2 linked regions of the Homo sapiens genome follow. The protein of the gene in region 1 interacts with the protein of each later gene in a pairwise test. Each region holds a gene or a part of one and is shown on either strand. Other genes may lie near its edges.

Region 1 (9,986 bases):
CCAACGTTGAGCTTAAAGAGAGAAGATTACCAGAATAGCTGGACACTCCTCTCTGTTATGTCCACCATCCTAGGGGTGCAGGAGATATCACTGGCCTTCCTCTCCCCAGCTCTGACTCTGGAAGAGCAGCCCCTTAGACACTCACTCTGTACACGTATCTGAGATCTCAGGCTCCTTTTTTTGATGCTGTGAGTCACTGTCTCCACCTCACACCAGTAAGACCCTGAGTCTTCAGTCCACATGGCAGGGATCTGGAGTCTGGGGGACCTGCTCCAGCCCAATCCGAGGGTCTGGCTATCTCTGAAGAGGGAGAATTGCAGCTGGACATCTGGCCTCTGTGGAGAGAGCTGGGTCTCACAGGTCAGGGTCATGGGACTCCCCTCTATGGGCGTGGAAGAGCTGGCTCTCAGCACAGGATGTAGAAACAGCTCTAATGAAAAGAAACAACATAGTCTCCAGGGTGGTGAGGCTCAGAGTTCCTAGAGAGATGCATTTGTCATCTCAGCACCAGCCATCAGGAGATAGAGAAGCATGCAGAAGGAACCATCTCCCTCCCATGGCTGAGCCATAGGAGACTCTTTATGAAATTCCCACTGATAAACATCTTCCCTTTATCCCCAGTTTCCCTAACAAACCCAGTAATCCACAGGAATCTAGCCATTACCTTGAACTTGGATATTTAGGGGTTTTGAAGTTACTTCAATGTCAAGTATGTAAAACTTCCTATAAGCAGTACAATGATATTTGCTATTATCCCTGGAGACTGAATTCACTGTGATCTTCTCTAAATTATAACTATTAGGAAGCTGTTTTCCATCCTTGTAGTAAACCTTTTGATGAGTGTTTTTGTTGTCTTTCCCCTGACATCTCAGAATGACATTGTCTCCTTCAAAGACAGGATGTAAAGCCTGCAGGATCAGCCAGTCTGCAAAGAGCACAGGAGCACACTCAGGTTATCCCCTGCTGTTTCTGCCTTCACTTTCATTTCCACCCATGAGGCAAGAGCCACAGTTCTATACACACCTGCAAATGGCCCCCACCCACATTGCCATGTGGCCCCAAATACCTGATTCTTCCTTGCCCTACAAGGGTGAACCAATTCCCAGAAAATGTTCTTGAGAAATCTTCACATGTCTTTTCACAAAAGAGGAATCCCAGACTTGAACCCCTTTTTGCCTGATGGCCCCTGGGTCACCCACAATTCTTTGGAGGTAGATGGATAGACAATCCAGCATCATGCTGCTGCCCTATCTCTTTATTTTCCCCACTGGGGTCAGTGCATCAATCCCCATGTCTGCTTACAACTCTGCCTAGGATCCCTGCATTAACCCGGCCCTCAGGCATTCTGCCTGGTGGCTTGACTTTAGACACTCCCCTTCCATTCCTCACCAGGTGAAAATTCCACATGCACGGCATCACTGAGGGAGGATCCTCGGGTCTTACATTGGTAATTTCCAGGCTCTGTAATTTGGATCTTGTCATGTTTTATTTTCAACAACTTCTCATCGTGATACCAATATGTGTCTCCCTGGGCTAGGGAATGTGATATGCTGCTGCATATGAGAGCCACTTTTTCTCCTTTGAAGGCTGTGGACCATGGAGGATTGAGGAGAAGTACAGCTTTTGGGGCCACCCCTAAACAGGAAATAGAAAGATGAAGGCAGGGGAAGGTCAATGGGAGGTGGGCACAGCACATGGGGAGCCCAACCTACAGTCAGGAGTTTTCCTGGACTAATTTCCAGTCAGGACCAGGGTGGAAAATTGAGCAGAAATAACCTAGGGAAATGCCTGGGAAAGAATCTGTTCTTCCTCATCCATTTCCTGGAGGTGGGCAGAAGGGTATTATAGGGGAGAGGTCTCAGTTTCCTGGCATAGCCTCAGAAAAGCTCAGGAGATGTGATTTGCCATTGGGCAAAAACTGCGAAGGCCTCAGAATGTGGCTGATCCTGAAATTCTCTTGTCCTATACATTTCTGTCCAGATAAAGGTGAACCTGGGATGTATATACCTCAGAAGTAGTTTCTAGACTCCAGAAAATTACTTCCTACTTGTTAACACTTAAAATGAATAAGATTTTCTCACTTGTATTACTTTTATATCTCTCTTAGCTTTGAAAGTCTATGGGGAAGGCAACTTTACTCTCCATTTAAGTTGGACACAGTAAACAATGGAGGGATATAAAGAATTTAAATGGAGGAGGATGGGTTGCCTGAGAAGTCAGACTTGTGTATGGAATTGCAACTGACTGACAGGCATGGAAGTGAGGTGTGGCAGTGGCATGAGCTCTTTTTGGAGATTTATAAGGATTCTGCTGTAGCATCTTCCTCCGTGGATGGGATCTATTTCTATGTCCTTTGATAGCAGCACTAGCTTGGACATTCAGAGGGAGATGTACTAGAGAATATGGAGATCACATATGAGATTCCTTCATCATCAGCCTCTTGCCTCTGTCCTTTGCTCTGCAAGTGTTTCCTTCCTGTAGTCTGAGGAATACCGGTAATGTAGGGAGAAAAAAAAAAAAAAACCTAGAGACTGAAAAAGTCGGAGGAGGCTCTGTTCACCCAATATAGTAGCAGATGTGACCCCAGAGCATTAGCATTGCTGATGGGATGCGTGCCTGCAAGGGTTAGGGCAGGCTGTGTGGGCTGAGGGGACCAATATCCAGAGACCAGAGGGGCAGAGAGAAGGAGAAACTTACCTGATTGTTCTCTTCCAGGAGCTGTGAGGGAGCAGAAAATGACAATCAGACACTCTCCGAAACATTTTCTAACAACCTAACCACAACCACTTCTTTTGTTTTTCCTTATCATTTCTTTGCTCCCTTTTTATATCATCCAGAGCCCCTAAACAACAAAGAAAATGTCATATAATGTATTTTACAAACGTGATGGCTTATGTCCAAGGCCTGACCTCATCTCTGCTATTATTTACTTGGCCACGGCACACTTTATTCTCTCCTTCTCTTCTCTGAGTGCAGAGGCAGACAAGGACTTACAGAAATGGTTTATCCTCCTTTCGTTCCTTGGGCTCCTATTGTTCCCCTCACTTTTTCAATCTCTGATTAAATTTTGGCTTAAAACTTCTAGAAAACAGTGATGTTTCTCAGTAAACCTTCCTTCACGTGCCTAGGTTTTTAGAAGTAACTGCTCATCTGAAAAATTATTTAGTCTGAGGCTTAAGAGGGAGGGTGGGATATAGAGTTGTGGTTTGGCAGAAGGAAAAATCCAAGTTTCCTATGAGGTGAGAAAAGCAGTGGGTGAGAAACCAAGGTCAGGATATCTGGCTTGCTCTGATGGTTGCATTTGGAGCCTCTTGGTTGTCCAGGGAACCCAGCTCTGCTCACTTCCCATCCCTTGCTATCTGTCTCTGAACCCCAAGTAGAAGCAGAGATAGAAGCTCCTTGAGTTTTTCCCTGGTCACCTTTAGGAACTGAGGCCGTGGCCCCATTATAGCCCATCTACTCACTCAGGATCAGCAGCAGCAGCCACAGAAGCATGGGCACCGGCCGGGCAGAGGGTTGGGAAAGTCTGTCTCACCAAAAGCCCGACTTATCTCCAAGAAGGAGGGCAGGAAGCTGCTACTCAGATGAGACCTGCAAGAATCAGAAAAGGGAAGAAGAGCTTAGTGTCATATTTTGCTTTGGGCTCTGAAAATGTGAATGTGGCTACCTTCCTAAATGCTGTTTGTATCTCAATCCCGGTAGTGATACATTTTTAGAAGTTGGGGCTCATCTTCCATCAGCTGCAGTCTCTCAGGAGTAATGTCTCCAAGACTGTGCCTGGGTTCTCTAGAAATATCAAGTTGTGTATTTGCTAGTATTCAAATAATTCTTTCTGTATTTTTCATATGGGAAACCCCTTCACTACCTTGTCTTCACACAGCCTTTGGTTCTGCATGCAGCTCCTAATGTAGGCAAGCTTAATGAGCGTGGTGTGAATCACACAGTCAAGGTGTCAAGCATATGCCTTTTTGACTTTCACATAAGTTGTTATGAGGCTTCTGAACAGGAAAATAATACAAATGTACAGATCAAGGACTTCCCGTAATCTCACCCAGATCTGCAAATTAGGAGATAAATCAGCAAGCGTACCACCGTTTTTAAAGCCAAAGCCCTTCTCAGAAAGGGCTTTGCAATCAAAGAGGTTCCACCCCATTATTTTGTTTCAGGTCCTTTGTGTTTTTTTCACAGTGTTTATAACAATTTGCAATTATTTTCTCTATTTCCTTGTTTGCTTTCGTGTCTTCTTTCCCACTAACATTTAAGGGCCCCTTTTCTTACCCCTTATATCCCCCGCACCTCTAACTGTTCTTTCTTGAAAGCATTCCTTTAGTAAGTATTATTTGAGGGACTATTGAATAAAAACTCTGAACCAGTGTTTCTCAACCATTTTTTCGTTATTGCTCCCCTAAGGATCTTTTTTAGACAATTTTGTTTTTAGCCACCCCCTTTTTCCATGAAAATTTAATACCACAAATATACTATGTATGTGTTTATGTGCTGCATGTATAGCTGTGTTTGATACATTAAAAAATTAGTTTTTTTCATCTTCCCAAGAGTCAATTCTTGCCCCTTTGAAGGTGATATAACTTCTGTTAGGAAGGCGTGTTTTAGACTTAGAGGTAAGCCATTCTTGGGAATCTACCTACCAGGATAAAGTTGTCATCATTCAGATACCTTTACATTAGAAATGGGAGATGATCTCAGATCAAATGTCCCATCCTCAGGGTGCCCAACCTTGGCAGGTAATGGAAAGAGGGTCCTCTTTTTTAACAAATATTATTATGTTCTTTCTCCCATGGAAGTCACCAAATTTTATCATTCTCTATATGTTTATGTGATTGTATAATGCCTATTTTTCTCATTAGATAGTATTACAAGGTTTGGGAACAAGCCTGGTTTGTTCTTCATTTTGTTTCAATGCCTAACAGAGCACTTGTCACATACCAATTTGTCAATAAGGACTTGCCAAATGAACGACCAACAAACAGTAAGGAACAGGATGACAATAGAAGAGGATTGGATGTGTTTCAATGTGTGCTTAGTCATTCCTGGTTAGAGATTTCTCCAATATTCTGGAGAAGATATATTGGTTATATCAATTTATTTAAATTAAATTAAATTATTTATTTAAACTATACCCAGTTAATCCACACTACAGGGTCTTTGTAAACTTGTAATTGTAGAGTATGGTGCCACATCTACTGAGAGGTATTCTCTGACCTCCCACATTTGGGCTGGGTGTTCCTCTCATGTGCATCAATAACACTTGGATTTCCTTCACTCCAGAACCGATCACAGTGAACTGAAACATCCTGTCCCTTTGATGGTATTCCTCAATGATCTAAGTATCTTTAGGGAAGGGAGCGGTTAGGGCTTATTTTTTATTTCTCTGAGGACAGCATGCTCATCAACAAAAGGAAGGTTCAGTGGGATATGGATAGCTTCGAGATTCAGTGTGTCATTTCAGACTAATTCAAAATATGAATAAACCTCAAATATACTTCATGCTCAAAGGTGACGATGTTGTTGATGACTCTGAAGTATTGTTTCCTGTGGTTGGAAAGATATGCTCAGAAAAGAGTATTTTGAATTTAATTGCTCATCTGTAGCCAAAAATGTTACATTTTTCTACGTCTCTCTCTGAAGACAGGAACTATGTCATATTCACATTATTCTAGCACCTAGCACAGTGCCTAACACTCAGTAGAGGATTGCCAGATAAAATGCAAGGGTCTCATTTAAATTTGTATTTCAAATAAAAAACAAATAATTTTTACTATAATTATGTTCCATACAATACTTGGGATATGTATGAGTTCGTTTTCATGCTGCTGATAAAGACGTAACAAGACTGGGCAATTTACAAAATAAAGAGGTTTATTGGACTTACAGTTCCACATGGCTGGGGAGGCCTCACAATCATGGCAGAAGGCAAGGAGGAGCAAGTCACATCTTACATGAATGGCAGCAGGCAAAGAGAGAATGAGAGCCAAGCGAAATGGGTTTCCCCTTATCAAACCATCAGATCTCGTGAGATTTACTCACTACCAGAAGAACAGTATGGAGAAAACTGTCCCCAGGATTCAATTATTTCTCACTGGGTCCCTCCCACAACACATGGGAGTTATGGGAGTACAGTTCAAGATGAGATTTGGGTGGAGACATGGAGCCATATCAGGATATAATTGCATTTAAAAAGTAGTCACTGTTTATCTGAAATACAAATGTAACTAGGAGTCCCATATTTTTATTTGCTAAATACGCCAAATCTAATTGAACAGAATAACTTTTCATTTGCCTGAATATATTAATGAATGGTTGTGTTGGGGGGACATCTATTTTCTTCCATGTGCATGCAACTCCTACTCCTGTTCCTCCTTCTGCTCCTTAACTCACTCCATCCTGGAAGAAGTGACGTGCCTTATGTGATCAGTAAATTTGGGAAGAATAATTGAGTCATGATAAACTTATTATTATTATTACTATAATTTTTTGAGAAAGAGTCTCACTTTGTTGCCCAGGCTGGAGTGCAGTGGCACAATCTCGGCTCACTGCAAACTCTGCATCCTGGATTCAAGCGATTCTGGTGCCTCAGCCTCCCGAGTAGCTGGGACTATAGGCACGTGCCACCACGCCCAGCTAATTTTTGTATTCTTAGTAGATACTGGGTTTCACCATGCTGGCCAGGATGGTCTCGATCTCCTGACCTCATGATCCACCCACTCGGCCTCCCAAAGTGCAGGGATTACAGGCATGAGCCACCGCACCTGGCCCCATGCTAAACTTAACTCCATGCTCTTCCCCCTGGATGCAACTCTACTGGCAGAAGGGTTTATGAACAAGTATACGCCTTCCCCTGTGTGGAGATTTAAGTGGGGAGGGAGTGAGGGAGTCTAAAGTTCCAGAGCAAATTTTCAGAGACACAAACAATTGGGGCATGGGTTTAGATGTAAAAGAACTAAAAACAAAAGAACAAATGTATGAGAGCTATATATTTACAAGGAGAGGCTTTTGGTGGGAAGAGATCCTGTCATTCTCAGCCTTGGGATTTGTTTAGTAAGAGAGACGGGCATTTTCCAGATTGTAGAGGCCTATTCTGAGCCACCTTTTATACTTAACTACTGAGCCTGGGCAAGATGCTTGCAGTCTTAGGGCATATGGTTTTGTGACACGACTTGTGGTGGCTTTGTTCATAGGTCAGTGGTTGTTTCTATAGAGGCAGGACTGTACCCATGAATGTCAATAAGCAAAAGGCACAAGAAACTTGTGAGGGCCTTCAAGATTGCTGCGAAGCCCTTGTAAGCAGGGACAGACAAGGCAAGGGCTTACGTATGGGCAGTAAGTGCTTGGAAGGACACAAGTGCTGCCTGGCAACAGAACTTTGGGGGCTGCAAGATGGTTCAACAGAGGCCCACAGTAGGCACAGTCACATTTTCTAGGTAGTCATAGCTGAAGCAGATAGTCTTTTGTTTTGTTTTTTTTGGGGGGAGGGAGGGGCAAAAATAGAAATCTCTAAAGCATTTTTAGGCACTGGTGACTGGAATAATATTTTTGGCTCCAAGATTCCTTGTATGCTACAAAACACCAATGAGAATCTAGTTTTAAATTGCTAGAATGAAGCCTAGAAAAGCTTCCCATGTCTCAGTCACCCCAAATCTCACCCTGCTTTCAGGTCCAAGCAGCAAACTGGATGGATTACTCTTGAATTCATGTGGCATTCTCTTGGCTCAAGGGTGGAAAACATTTAAACAATTACTGACATGATTACATAGTTATTGTAGGTGGCTTAATTTTTTAATTCTTTCATATACAGATGGGGCTGTGCTCCCCAGACTGGTCCTGAACTCCTAGACTCAAACAATCCACCCACCTCTGCCTCCCAAAGTGCTGGGGCTCCAGGTGTGAGGAAACACACCTGGTCAGTTATATTTTCTAACTGAACTAAATGTAAGTACAAGGTGAAAATATTCCCTAGGAGACAGTCTTCTTAGGCCAGTACAATTCCATATCAAGCAGAGGTTGGTCTGCTCACTTGAGAGAGTAGATGCTGTGTCACATAAGAGGTCCCTCACTGAATTCAGAGCTGAGGTGTCAGGAGCACTTCACTCAAAGAGGAAGTGAAAATCAAGATGCTTTGAATAGATTCAATGGAAAAGAAAGACACAAAATGTTATTTTAACATAGGTTCCTTCAATGTCTAGTTTATTGAGAGGTTTTAACATGAAGAGATGTTGAATTTTATTGAAGGCCTTTTCTGCATTTGAGATAATCATGTGGCTTTTGTCTTTAGTTCTGTTTATGGGATGAATCACATTTATTGATTTGCATATGTTGAACCTTGCATCCTAGGGCATAAGAAACCCACAGCCAATATCATACTGAATGAGCAAAAGCTGGAAGCATTCCCCTTGAAAACCGGCCCAAGACAAGGATACCCTCTCTTACCACTCCTATTCAACATAGGATTGGAAGTTCTGGCCAGGGCAATCAGGCAAGAGAAAGAAATAAAGGTATTCAAACAGGAAGAGAGTAAGTCACACTATGTTTGTTAGCAGATAACGTGGTCCTATATCTAGATAACCCCATCATCTCAGCTCAAAAGCTTCTTAAGCTGATAAGCAACTTCAGCAAAGTCTCACGGTACATAATCAAAGTGCAAAAATCATGAGAATTTCTATACACCAACAGTAGACAAGCAGAGAGCCAAATCATAAATGAATTCCTACTCACAATTGCCACAAAAAGAATAAAATACCTAGGAATACAGCTAACAAGGGAAGTGAAGGACCTCTTCAAGGAGAGCTACAAACCACTACTCAAGGATAGCAGAGATGACACAAAGAAATGGAAAAACATTCCATCCTCATGGATAGGAAGAACTGATATCATGAAAAAACAATTTATAGATTCAATGCTATGCCCATTAAATTACCATTGACATTCTTCACAGAATTAGAAAAAAAAATTTTTTTAATGTGTGTGGAACAAAAAAGAGTCCAAATAGACAGGACAATCCTAAACAAAAAGAACAGACCTGGAGATATCACACTACCTGACTTCAAATTATACTACAAGACAACAGTGACAAAAAAGCAAGGTATTGGTATAAGAACAGATACATAGACCAATGGAACAGAGTACAGAGCCCAGAAATAAGACCACACACCTAAAACCATCTGATCTTTGACAAACCTGACCAAAACAAGCAATGGGGAAAGGATTCGCTATTTAATAAATGATGCTGGGAGAACTGGCTAGCCATATGCAGAAAATTGAAACTGGACCCCTCCTTTCACCATATACAAAAATTAATTCAAGATGGATTAAGAACTTAAATGTAAAACCCAAATCTATAAAAACCCTAGAAGAAAATCTAAGCAATACCCTTCAGGACATAGGCGCAGGCAAAGATTTCATGACAAAGACACCAAAAGCAATTGCAGCAAAAGCAAAAATTGACAAGTGAGATCTAATGAAACTAATGAGCTTCTGCTCAGCAAAAGAAGCTATCATCAGAATGACCAGACAACCTACAGAATGGGAGAAAATATTTGCAATTTAACCATCTGACAAAGGTCTAACATCCAACATCTACAAGGTACTTAAACAAATTTACAAGGGAAAAAAATAAAAAACAACCTCATTAAAAAGTGGGTAAAGGACATGGACAGACACTTGTCAAAAGAAGATATATATGTGACCAACAAACACATGAAAAAAAGCTCAACACTACTGATCATTAGAGCAATGCAAATCAAAGCTACAATGAGATACCATCTCACACCAGTCAGAATGGCTACTATCAAAAAGTCAAAAAACAACAGATACTGGCAAGGTTGTGGAGAAAAAGGAAAGCTTATACCCTGCTGGTGAGAGTATATATTAGTTCAATCATTGTGGAAGACAGTGTTGTGATTCCTCCAAGACCTAGAGGCAGAAATACCATTTGATCCAGCAATCCCATTACTGGGTATATACCCAAGGGA
Region 2 (5,483 bases), on another chromosome or scaffold:
GTATTCATTTGAAAGAACATCTTAGTTTCAAAAATTTCTCTGAGAATAAAGGAGAAAATGCAAAACAAAGAATAATGAAAAAATATCTTTGGAAAACATGACAGTCATCTTCACCTTTAAGACTTTGAGAATTAGAAATCTGATCAGATATAGATTAATTTATTAAAAGTGAGAGTAAGAAGTTTAAGACACTTATGCCTAATGAATTCAATTTTCCTTTCAAATACGTATGTTGTTGTTATTATTATTATCAATATTATTATTTTGAAATTGACTACTGAGTGAGATGAGTTGGTTCCTTCAGAAAACAAATATTGGGGCAATTTATTGTAGGTTAATGAGAGAGGTATTGCATCAAATACGTGGAAAAAACTTGGTGAGCAATGTTGTACTCCAAATTTAGAAAACAAAAAAATCACATTTTTTCTATATATCTAGGTTTTGATAAAGAAACATGATATAAAATTTAGGGATTTATAGGATTGAGATATTAGCAAGTAGAGTTACCCAAACCCAGAAGTTCACTGGAATTGTTTGAGTTATTGCAAGTATATAGTGAATGAAAAATATGAAGTACTGGCTTAGAGGAAAATAAAATAAATTTTAAAAGGAACACATAGAATAAAAGGACATAAAAATAGGAAGGACCCACAGATTTCTGTAAGGCCCAAGTGTGGATATCTATGATTCAACCCTTGATTCCATTCCAAAATATAAATAAGATTATGTCTTTCTCCAATGTCATCCATCTCAAATCAAAGACTTAACATGGGCCACAAAGCTTTAGTTACCTGCGTATCCCTTATGCTGTGACGTAATTTATTTTGATCCACTTGCCTTCTCTGTCCATATTGGTCTCCTTGAATTTGTCCCTAATGAAACAAACATGTTTCTATCACAATAAATTTGCATTTGCTATTTTCTGCTGGAAAATTTATTTCTCCATATTCGCTCTCATGCTTAGTTCATATCTTTCATAAAATGTCACTATGTCAGAGAGTCTCTTGTTGACTATCCTGTTTAAATTTGTTTCTGTGCCCTAGACATGCTTATACTTCTTTAGCACACTTATCATTGCCTAAGATATGTACTATTTATTTACTTTGTATCTGCATCTCCCAACTACAATGTAAACTCTCCAAAGACAGGACTTTTGTCTCTCTTTGTCTGCAGCATCTAGAAGAGGACCTGACAGCTGGGGTCATTCAATAAATATTTCTTGAATAAAAGTCATTGCTGAAAAACTAATGGAGGGCATTAGATGGTTTACATGCAGAGTGCCTACATACTGCTGTAGAGTGACATGGTGGTTATCTTCTGACCTACAGGGACTGAGATAAAAAATGTGAGTGCTTTGGAGGCTTAGCAACTGTGGTGTGGCAAAGGAAACCATGGGCAAATCAAATCTTGGCATAAATAGCTCTAATAATAAGTGAGTTTGAGTACCATGTTTGTAACATATAAAATATGACAGACTAAATTATAAATAAGGACCTCTGACATTATGGGCTTCAATCTGTGCTAGTCAAACTGGGAAAGAAGATGATGAAAGAAATCATTATTCCTATAAATAGAAAAGAGAAAAATAAGGAGCATACATGTAAAAATGTGCTTGAAATTTATTGCTTTTAGAGAAGTGATTTCTATTATTCAGAAACAGTACTGAACACAGCTTAACAGTTTAAATTGCAATTATATCATCAAGTGACAATTGAAAAGGCAAGTATCCTGAAACAAAGAGTATACAGTAAATTATAGTGTTTTTCATTTGCATTGCTCTTTGATGATTCTTCAAAAAGTGGTAGTAGTGTGATATGGTATGAAAGATGAGAATATGGATGTAGAAGTCGTATTTGCCAATCAAGCCTGCACAGAAAAAAAAAAATAACAGATTATCTGTAAAATTTTTACCCCTGTAAACACATTTATATTCTGGCCTGGTACAGAGTAGATATTATATACAATTATAGTTTATAAAATGCAGGGCCCAAAATAATATTTGACACAGAGTAGACAATTAAACAATTATTAAATTGGTTCCTGAATAAATAAAAATTATCATTCAGCATCTACAATTTAAATTATTTTTCAATCATCATACTATTTTATTCTTCTACTTAAATATAGCCTACACATTTCATTTATATGCATTTCCTCTAAATAATATTTCAATACATCTTTTCTTGATTAAATGTCATCAGCTATTACCTAAAACCTAGGGGATCAAGTTCAGGCTCTTCCCTGTATCACTAATGGCAATAGAGAATTGAATTGGAATATAATCTCCCAAATGCACTGAAAAATAATTGAAATCCTTTGGACTATTTTAACTTTGTAGAACAATCCTCCCTTATCTCCAAGAGTTTGCTCTATTTTGTTTTGAAATATTATTTTTTCATAGAATTTAGAACATTTAATGTTGTGTAGAGATAGGTAAAACTGACTTTCTAAAAAGAAATTGATAACATTTCCATATTTTCTTGTTAGCATTATGTTAATAATTTCTATAGTAATTGCTCAGTAGAGTTACTTAGGGTACAAAATGCAAATTTCTCACAAGTTCCCAGATGGTTCCCAGATGGAAGCTTCTCCAAAGATTGCATTTTGGGAGTGAAAACTTTAAGCAACACCTAGGTACAGATTTAGTGGCAGGGAAGCCCTGCAGTTATAACTACAAACCTTTCTGATCAAGAGATTTTATGTGATATGTCTTTCAAAAGTGTCACCAATTCTAAAAAGCACATTTAAGTGTTATCATAATACACAATTTTTTGACGAGAAAACTGAGGTTCAGGAGCATTAGGAGTAGTTCAAAGTCATGAAACTAGTAGTTGTCAGGGCCAGCATACAAACCCTGGTGTCCCCCACTCTATAACACTGCCTTCTAACCATAGCAGGACAGAGACTATCTCAGAAGCATTTATATAAATTAATACATTTCAAGGAGCTATACAGCTGGCTGCTTTCTTATACTGGAACTGCTGTTGGTTTAATGTCTTGTTTTTGTTTTTCTTCTTTTAACTGTCAGCACTGATACAGAAAGTAAAAAAAATGTCACTAAACCCATCTTACCTCAATAATCATGTCCTGCAGTTACTGATGATATTAAAAGGTATATTGTTGGTATTGTGGTTGGTATGGTTGTGGGTATAGTGGTTGTTCTGGAACTGGCTGATAAGGGCCATACCCATACTGTATACACACAAGGAGAAAGAAAATTGCAGAAAATTGAGATAATGACAGTGCAAGCGTTTTTATTAGAAGCTTAGATTGTTAAAGTTTTAGGAACTTACATATTACTTATAAGATTTTTTTCCAAACTTTCAATTAGATTTTTCTTTTTGGTTATAAACACATTTTAAAAGCAGGTAAAAATGATTGAGTGTTTACCTTTGTACTGCATGTTCACAGTTTTGTGGTTTTATTTCACATGCAGGAACACCGATTATAGGCTATCACTCCAAAGAGGTTTTAAATTTTCTTCAAAATACTACCTCCCAGCAACCATTTTGCCCACCTTTGAGTATTATGGGAAGGAGACATTTACTAAATTCAGCTTATGTGGTGTTTCTTCAAGTCACTCTTTTAATGAGCTTACTGTCTCTTACGATTCCTACATTCCTTAATACTTCTTCCTTCTGTTAACACAAATAACCATCATCCCTTTTAGAGTATCTTTTTATTTGGTGTTATTTTAATCCATGTATTCACTATATTAGTTAGGGGATCTTTTGCAACCCTATCACATTGACATTATATGTCAACATACTGGGACATCAAGATACATACATTAAGAAAAATGTTAAATAAATGAAATTTGCTATCTCATTTATCATGACCTGTTTAATTTAATGAGTTTATCACCGTCAAAAAAAATCAGAAGGTGCAAACTTACCATATTTTATGTGTAATTATCAGCCTTTATGCTCCATGAGGCATATATTATAATTAACAGAATTAGAATTTCAACTATTTTTTAGGTCAAAGTGATTACTTAGGAGATGATACTTGAGGGCTCAGGGAGTAACTGGTTTCTTCAGGTTGGCACTATGAGTTTCAACTTAAATGTTGTTAGGACACAATACATTTGTGACTGTTACCTGTGTATCATAAATAGAGGAAAACAAAGCACACTTTTGCAACTACTACACATATTTGAGAAATAAGTATTGGTTCTTCTAGAAGAATAAGTAATCAGAGAACACAATTTATTTGGACTACACAGCATTATCAGAGAACACTTACACCGAATCTTCCAATTCTACGCAAAAATTTCTGTGAAAAATGAAGAAAAGTTTAATAATTCAATACAAATGTAGGGAGGACAAAACTGAAAACAAGTTTTCCAGTGAATGAAAATGACTCACCTCTTCAGATGAATCAGCTCCCTTAGAAAACAGAAAATTAGACAATAGTTAGTATCTTAATGTTATAATTCCAGATTGAGTACAAAAATGAACTCAGCAGCTACAGTTGTGAGTAAACAGGATGTAGGCAAATCATCGATAGACACTAAATTAGTTATTTTTGCTTCATGACATCTTTAAAATGAGTTAAGAGTATGCTTTTCTGTAATTAGTGTGCTATATTCAAATATAAATTTATTTGGATTTATACTTGTTTTGTGTGTAAAAGGGAGTAAATGGTTATCATTGGTGAATGAAAAGTGAAACTTTGTATTTTTTCATAAGAATATGTTTTCAGCAGCTCAAAGGCTACTTACACATAACTTTTATTTACTGACAGAGACAAGCATTATGTTTTTCTCTGTTTTCCTTACATTTTTATTTTTTATTTTTTAGACACCTATCCTTTTATAACAAATAATGTGGTATACTGTGATTTTATAATCAAATTAGTTTTTGAAATATCTGTTAGAATTTACCAGGTAAGTTGAACTATTTTTATTCTTTCATGGCCAGTTTCCTACTAATGTCATAGAAAAGGGACAGGAGAAATAGAAGGAAGTAGAGTAGAAGAAAGAGCTCCAGAGAAGTCAAGTGCTTTACCTAGTGATACATAGTAGTAAATGACAATAAAAGCTGGGAACTCATAACATGTCATAGATCTGAAGTTTTGTTTTATAGTTAAAAATAAGCAGCTTTATTTTAGAAAGTGTGTGCTAAATAATTGTATACTAATTTTAAGTTAGTTTTTGCAAGGAATGACTTGAAAATTTCTACTTTGACATCTTCTAATACTTGAATTCCACTCAAGTGCACCTAGTTCATTCCTGAGATTTCTAACTTCAGATTGTCTAGAGCATTACATGTTTAAAGATACTTTTAGAAGCTCTCAGTTCCACATATTTAAGAAGTTCAGTAAAACTTTCTTTTATTTCACACTAAGCTAAATATACTTTAGTGTCTGTAGATGAATAATGACTATTTATTCTAAATCCTTATATAGCTTATGTAGGTTAGTACAAAAAAAAGTTCATATGGAAACATTTAAACATATAAAGCTGTATTCAAGTAAACACC

Evidence for each region. Proteins that work in one complex are often made in the same cells at the same time.
Region 2: the proteins of FCRL3 (region 1) and STATH interact in binary tests that used the Homo sapiens proteins (3 or more experiments, as listed by UniProt).

The regions. Positions count from the first base shown.
Region 1 is NC_000001.11:157,696,995-157,706,980, forward strand, and holds the start of FCRL3 (Fc receptor-like protein 3 isoform 1 precursor), read right to left. Parts: upstream 3,776-9,986; 5' UTR 3,668-3,775; intron 3,592-3,667; 5' UTR 3,496-3,591; coding exon 3,465-3,495; intron 2,719-3,464; coding exon 2,698-2,718; intron 1,636-2,697; coding exon 1,390-1,635; intron 926-1,389; coding exon 665-925; intron 431-664; coding exon 146-430; intron 1-145. UniProt on the Homo sapiens protein: Promotes TLR9-induced B-cell proliferation, activation and survival but inhibits antibody production and suppresses plasma cell differentiation. Enhances activation of NF-kappa-B and MAPK signaling pathways in TLR9 stimulated B-cells.
Region 2 is NC_000004.12:69,998,572-70,004,054, reverse strand, and holds the end of STATH (statherin isoform a precursor), read right to left. Parts: intron 4,389-5,483; coding exon 4,368-4,388; intron 4,276-4,367; coding exon 4,246-4,275; intron 3,193-4,245; coding exon 3,106-3,192; 3' UTR 3,073-3,105; intron 1,867-3,072; 3' UTR 1,485-1,866; downstream 1-1,484. UniProt on the Homo sapiens protein: Salivary protein that stabilizes saliva supersaturated with calcium salts by inhibiting the precipitation of calcium phosphate salts. It also modulates hydroxyapatite crystal formation on the tooth surface.